2 separate regions of the Homo sapiens genome follow, and region 2 is linked to region 1. Evidence: fine-mapped expression QTL. A gene starts in region 1. The other region holds a variant in brackets. All regions are shown on one strand. Distances are between the middles of the regions.

Region 1 (2,904 bases):
CTCCTGCCAGGCCCTTCCACTGGCCAAGCCAAACAGGAAGACCAGGACAGAGAGCTGTCAGTGAAATCCACACAGGCCAGCCTCTGGGGCTGGAGCAGGATGGTAAAGTCTGGCAAGGAAGTCAGAGGAGCAAATGGAGGGGCGGATCCAAAGTGAATCAGCCCAAATCATCCACGTGGCCTGGCCGAGGCTGAGAGCCGTCCTACCCTGGATAAGCCCACCCTTTTCCAAAGGCTGATCCTGGACCGGGGTGGGAAGTAGCTCTGTCGTGGCATGGAGAAGAGTCGTACGGTTTGTTGAAAAGAGCCCCCACTTACTGGCTGTGAAAACACTGGCCAGGAGCCTAAACCTCCCATCCATGCATTATATATTCATTTATCCATTCATTCAGCCAACATCTCCTGAAAGTGACTCAGTGCCCAGCCAGTGCTAGGAGGCACTAGATGAAGAAACGAGGAGCTGCCCCAGCCACGGCAGCTTCAACGTGTGAGATCCACCTAGAGCCAGGCAGTGACGGGCTCCATCCACCGGCTCCCTGACTCTGGACCTTCACTGATGTAATTCCTGTAAGGCACATTCTTCTGAAGTACAGTTCCCAAGTCAGAGGGTCCTCAGGCCTCATTGGAAATGTCCAAATGTCTGGAGGCCGTCCTCTGTAAAAACACCTTTTCCTCCTAGAGTCTGCCTGAGGATGCAAAGACAGCATTTGTGAAAAGCAGGGGCCACGGGGCCCAGCGAGCAGTTAAGTGCTCCGCAACTGGAAATCGATGGCCTTGCTAACAAGCACCCAGCTGCCCCTCACACATAGTCACCACCCTTTTATCCCCTTTTGTTGCTTCCATGGCAATTACATTGCACGTATGCGCATTTGTTGCAGTTTTTCTCTCCCTCACTCCCCATGTCCCAGACTGAGGCTGGGGGAACCTGGTCACGGGTCTCTTGCTCCTCCTGAATCACCAGGGCTTGGGGTGGCTTTAGGAACGCCAGCACTCATACCATGGACTGCACTGCGGAATGGCTTCACATGCACTTAATCCCGGGCGCAGCACCGGCAGGCAGGCGGTACTACTGACACGTGCTACAACATGGATGAGCCTTGAGGACATTATGCCGAGTGAAATAAGCCAGACACAAAAAGACAAACATGGTGCTTGTACTACTAGGCTCATATTATAGACGAAGAGACCCAACCCAGAGAGGTTAAGCAACTTGCCGAGGGCACAGAGTGGAAAAGCGGCAAAGCCGGGATTCGAACCCGGGTGTCCGGCTCTCCAAACTGGCGGTGGATGGCGGCTGCCGGAGCGAGAGTGCTGGAATGAATCGATACGTCAATCAGTGAACGGGCGACGGGGTCAGTCCAGTCCCCTCCCCCGGCGCGGCGGCTCAGCACCGGGACAAAGGCCGGGCGGGGGCCGGACGTGGCCGGCGGGGTTCGCGCGCGGTGGGCGGGGGTCGGGGCCGGGCCCTTTAAGGGGGGCGGGCCGGCGGCGCGGGGGGCGGTGCGGGGGGCGGTGCGGGGGGCGGTGCGGGGGGCGGGCCGGGGGCGGGCGGCGGCGGCTGGGCCCGGCTGGAGTGCGCGCCGAGCGAAGGGCGGCGGCGGTGGCGGCGGCGGCTCGTGCTCGGCCCCGGCTGCGATTGCGCTCAGCTCCAGGTTCCCTGCCCGCGGCGGCGCGCCCCCAGCGCTCCCTGCACCCCGCGCCACCCGCACCCGCGCTCGGCCCGCTGCGGGCGGAGGAGCGGCCATGCCGCCGCGGCGCAGCATCGTGGAGGTGAAGGTGCTAGACGTGCAGAAGCGGCGGGTGCCCAACAAGCATTATGTGAGTGCGGCGCGGCCCCCACGCCCCCTTGAGCCCGCGCCCCGTCGGGGGCGACCGAGGGCCCCCGGCTTGGAAAACTTCTGCCTCCAGCGCTTCCCGTCCCCTCCTCCCCTGCTCTCCCCTCGGCTCTGCGGCGGCGCTGCCCGGGTCCCTCCCGACTCCTCCTCCCTCCCTCCCCTCCCCTCCCCGCTTTTGCCTCGTTCTCCCCCTCCATCCCTTCCTCCCGCCTCGCCCCCCTACTCGCCTCCCTGCGGCTCCTCTACCCCTTTCTGTCTTCTCCGTGTCCCCCCAACTCCCGTCCTGCTCATCTGTGGAAAAGTCTGGCTCCAGCCGGTGAGGGGTCTGAGACAGAAAGCGGGAGAGACAGAAGTGCCTGTTCTCAGGCCGCCCGCCTTGCCCCTCCTTGTCCAGAGGCGCGCAGACCCGCAGTCCCCAGCCACAGGTAGCCCCTCTAGGGTTCGCCGAATTTGACTCCGTTCTTTGGCAAGAGCCGGCCTGGGCGATGGAGGAGATCTCTGGGAATGGATCATTTGAGTGGCTACGCCTTTAAAGGGTTAAAAACATCCCCTGCCCCCTCTCTCCAGTAACTTCTGTTTTAAAATGTACGAAAGTTTTCTCCTGGCATCTCCCTCTGGAACATGGGAATCTTGTTTGGAGCTGGCAAGGACTTGAGAAAATGGGACAGTAGCGTCGTTTTGCAGATAGGAAGGCTGAGGCTCAGAGGTTGCAGGTCCTGGAACATAGAGCTGCATTCGGGCTTCCCTCCCTCCAGCAGGGGTGCCTGGGGCTGACGGTGACCTGCAGGTGGAAAGTGGCTTCCGCAGCAACCTAGGGGACACGTCTGCAGATTCAGGAGGCCCTGGGACCACCTCGCAGGTTCTAGGTGGAGATAAAGGGGATGTGGGGTGATGGGCCCACATGAGGCCTTGGGGAGGGCCTCATTACAGCAGGGAAGGGGGCTATAGTGTCTCTGGCGGTGAGAAGTGGGCAGTGGCGGAGCCTGGCTGCAGAGAAGTTAACCAGGAAGGGAAAAAGAGTAAGAGGGAGGGAAAAAATCCTAACAAAGAAGTATAGAACAATGAATAGA
Region 2 (2,904 bases), 32 kb after region 1:
GTGGATGTGGCCCAAGACATAATTATTGGCCCAGGAAACTGGACAGTCCAGGAATAAATTTAGCTTCAGGCAGAGCTGGATGTAAGCTTAGACTGTGTCATCGGGATGGTGGCTCCTTTCTCAGGCAGGCTCCCCCCCACCCCCAGTGAGGATGGGTAGCCCCCAGCAGCTCCACATCTTGACAGCCTGTCAACCTCAGGAGAAGAGCTTGGCTTTCTCCAGAGTTGGAGCAAAAGTCCCAGGGCGGGCCGGGCGCGGTGGCTCAAGCATGTAATCCCAACACTTTGGGAGGCCGACATAGGTGGATCACTTGAGGTCAAGAGTTCGAGACCAGCCTGAGCAACATGACAAAACCCCGTCTCTACTAAAAATACAAAAATTAGCCGGGCACGGTAGCGCTCGCCTGTAATCCTAGCTACTCGGGAGGCTAAAGCACGAGAATCTCTTGAACCCGGGAGGCAGTGAGCCGAGATTGTGTCACTGCACTCCAGCCTGGGTGACAGAGCTAGACTCCCTCTCCAAAAAGAAACCAAACCAAAAAAGTCCCAGGACAGACTCCTACTGGCTGTGATTGGCCCAGCTCAAGTCACATGTTCTCCCTTCAACCAATCACCATGAACAGAGAATGTGCGCCCCCCCCCCCAACCCCGTATCCAAGTGGGTGAGCTGAAGGTAGGGAAGGAGGATTCCAGGAGTCAGTCATCTTCACTTATGTATGCATTGTCTCTCCTTCTAACCGTCACCTCATGGAGGACAGGGACACTGCCTGTGAAACCCCAGGGCTTCTAACAGCACTGAGCGCCTTGTGTTTCTATGACATTTCTTTGTTTCCAAACAGCTTTCACTTGTGCATATATTTTAATTGTCACAACTACCCTATAGCAACAGATAGTTTATGCAGTCCAGGAATGGGTCACAGGTATGCTGATCCCTTAGCCCTTAGGTGTCTACCTGGTGTGTCCGGGGCCACCAAAGGCCCCAGCCAGGCACCTCTGACCTCTAATAGTCACCTCAGTTTGCCCGGGCTTGTTATCAATGTATTGTTTTCTGTGCGTGCCGTGACGTGTGACACAGGTTGGAAGCACAGCCCACTGGTTTATAAAATGGTCCTTCATCCTTAATTTCATCAGCACCTCACATCTATCCTGGGAGGCAGAGGAGGCAGAGGAGGCAGAGGAAGCAGGTGCTGTTAGCCCCATTCACAGGAGAAACTGGGACTCGGGGAAAAAATAACTTGGCCTAGGTCCTCGTCGGTGGAGACAGCATGATGGGCTGGCCTGTGGAAGATATAAGATGGCCAAGAGCTGCACGTCTCCGTGACTTCTCCTGATGAAAGTCAAGGTTTTAGGAATGACTGGCAAGATAGCCAGCCTGTCTCTCACTGAACTGAGCGGGTAGTGAGGAATCCTGGCAATGCCGAAAACAGCAGCTTCTCCTGAGCTGATGTGGTGCCACTGCATCCCCATACTTGATGTCATTCATCCTTTGCACAACTCTGTTGGGGGTTATTACACTCATTTTATTGAGGAG[G/A]GAGATGAGTCTTACAGCAAGCAACTTGTCCAGCCAGTCATTGGCAGAGCTAAGGCTGAAACCCACGTCTTTCTGACTCTGAGTCTTGTGCTCCCCCTGGGTCCCAGAGATTGGGAGACCACCTTCTGGTGTTAACACCCATCTCCTCTGTTGCTCCCGCAGGTCTACATCATCCGGGTCACGTGGTCCAGCGGCTCCACCGAGGCCATTTACCGGCGCTACAGCAAGTTTTTTGACCTCCAGGTAAGGATTTGAGGTCTCTGGTGAGCTGCAGGATCGGAAAGAGTTTAATTGGACTTACATTCCACTACAGCTTTAGAGTCCAGAATTTTTTTAATTTCCCAGACTTAAAAATGACATCCATGGCTGGGCGTGGTGGCTCACACCTGTAATCCCAGCACTTTGGGAGGCGGAGGTGGGTGGATCACTCGAGGTTAGAAGTTTGAGACCAGCCCGGCCAACATGGTGAAACCCCGTCTCTACGAAAAATACAAACATTAGCCAGGTGCGGTGACGGGTGCCTGTAATCCCAGCTACTCGGAAGGCTGAGGCAGGAGAATTGCTTGAACCCGGGAGGCAGAGGTTGCAGTGAGCCGAGATCGTGCCATTGCACTCCAGCCTGGGCAACAAGAGCAAAACTCCATCTCAAAAAAAAAAAATGACATCCATTACTTTTGAGACACAAATAATGTGCTTTGTTGCTTTATGCTTTGATATTTCATATTTCCTCCATAAGAGAAAGGGTGCCTGTTAACTGCTCCAGAATGGAGGGTAATCTGGAAATCATTTCCAAATGGCTTTGGCATGCAGTGTTTGAACTTAAGTTTTAAACAATAATCGTGTTTGCTGGTGAGCTGGGTTTGTTGAGTGTGTCTAGACTTTTGGGGCCATTCAGCTCTGAAGACAGACCTGCATCTCCTGCCTCACCTTGGCCTCTCTCCACAGGCCTTTGCCCTCCCCACACACTCCTGTGCCTTCCCGGCTCACTCATGGCTCCAGTAACCCCTTCTGCCCTTCAGGACTCTCATCCCCTAGGAAACCTTGCCTTTGTTCCCTGGCCAGCGAGGGCCACCCATTCTGTGCCCCTACAGCTCTGTGTGTCTCTCTGTATTGAAGCTGTCTGCTTGTCTGTCTCCCTGCCTAGACTGTGACTATTGTGGGCCAGAACCACATCTTTCTCTTCCTGTCTGTCCTTAATAGTTTATTCAAGGCCTAACACACAGTATATGTCCAGTCAGTGTTTGGTGAATGAATGAATGAATGAACGAACACCATGTATACTACCAGTCTTATAGGGAGCCAGGCAGAATGTGAACAGCTCGGTATAAGCACATCCCCATTAGGGTAAAACAAGTCTAACCAGTGGGTTAGTAG

What was found.
Region 2: its variant is fine-mapped to the expression of SH3PXD2B in whole blood (INTERVAL, PIP above 0.99).

Annotation. Positions count from the first base shown.
Region 1 is chr5:172,453,191-172,456,094 of GRCh38, reverse strand. SH3PXD2B (SH3 and PX domains 2B) reads left to right here and starts at 1,570. Exons shown (of 13, transcript NM_001017995.3): 1 at 1,570-1,817. The coding sequence starts at 1,743. RefSeq lists an enhancer at 2,083-2,604.
Region 2 is chr5:172,421,285-172,424,188 of GRCh38, reverse strand. SH3PXD2B (SH3 and PX domains 2B) reads left to right here. Exons shown (of 13, transcript NM_001017995.3): 2 at 1,693-1,773. Among named protein-coding and RNA genes, the nearest start is that of SH3PXD2B, 32 kb to the left of the region's middle. The variant G/A (reference allele first, on the strand shown) is at 1,531.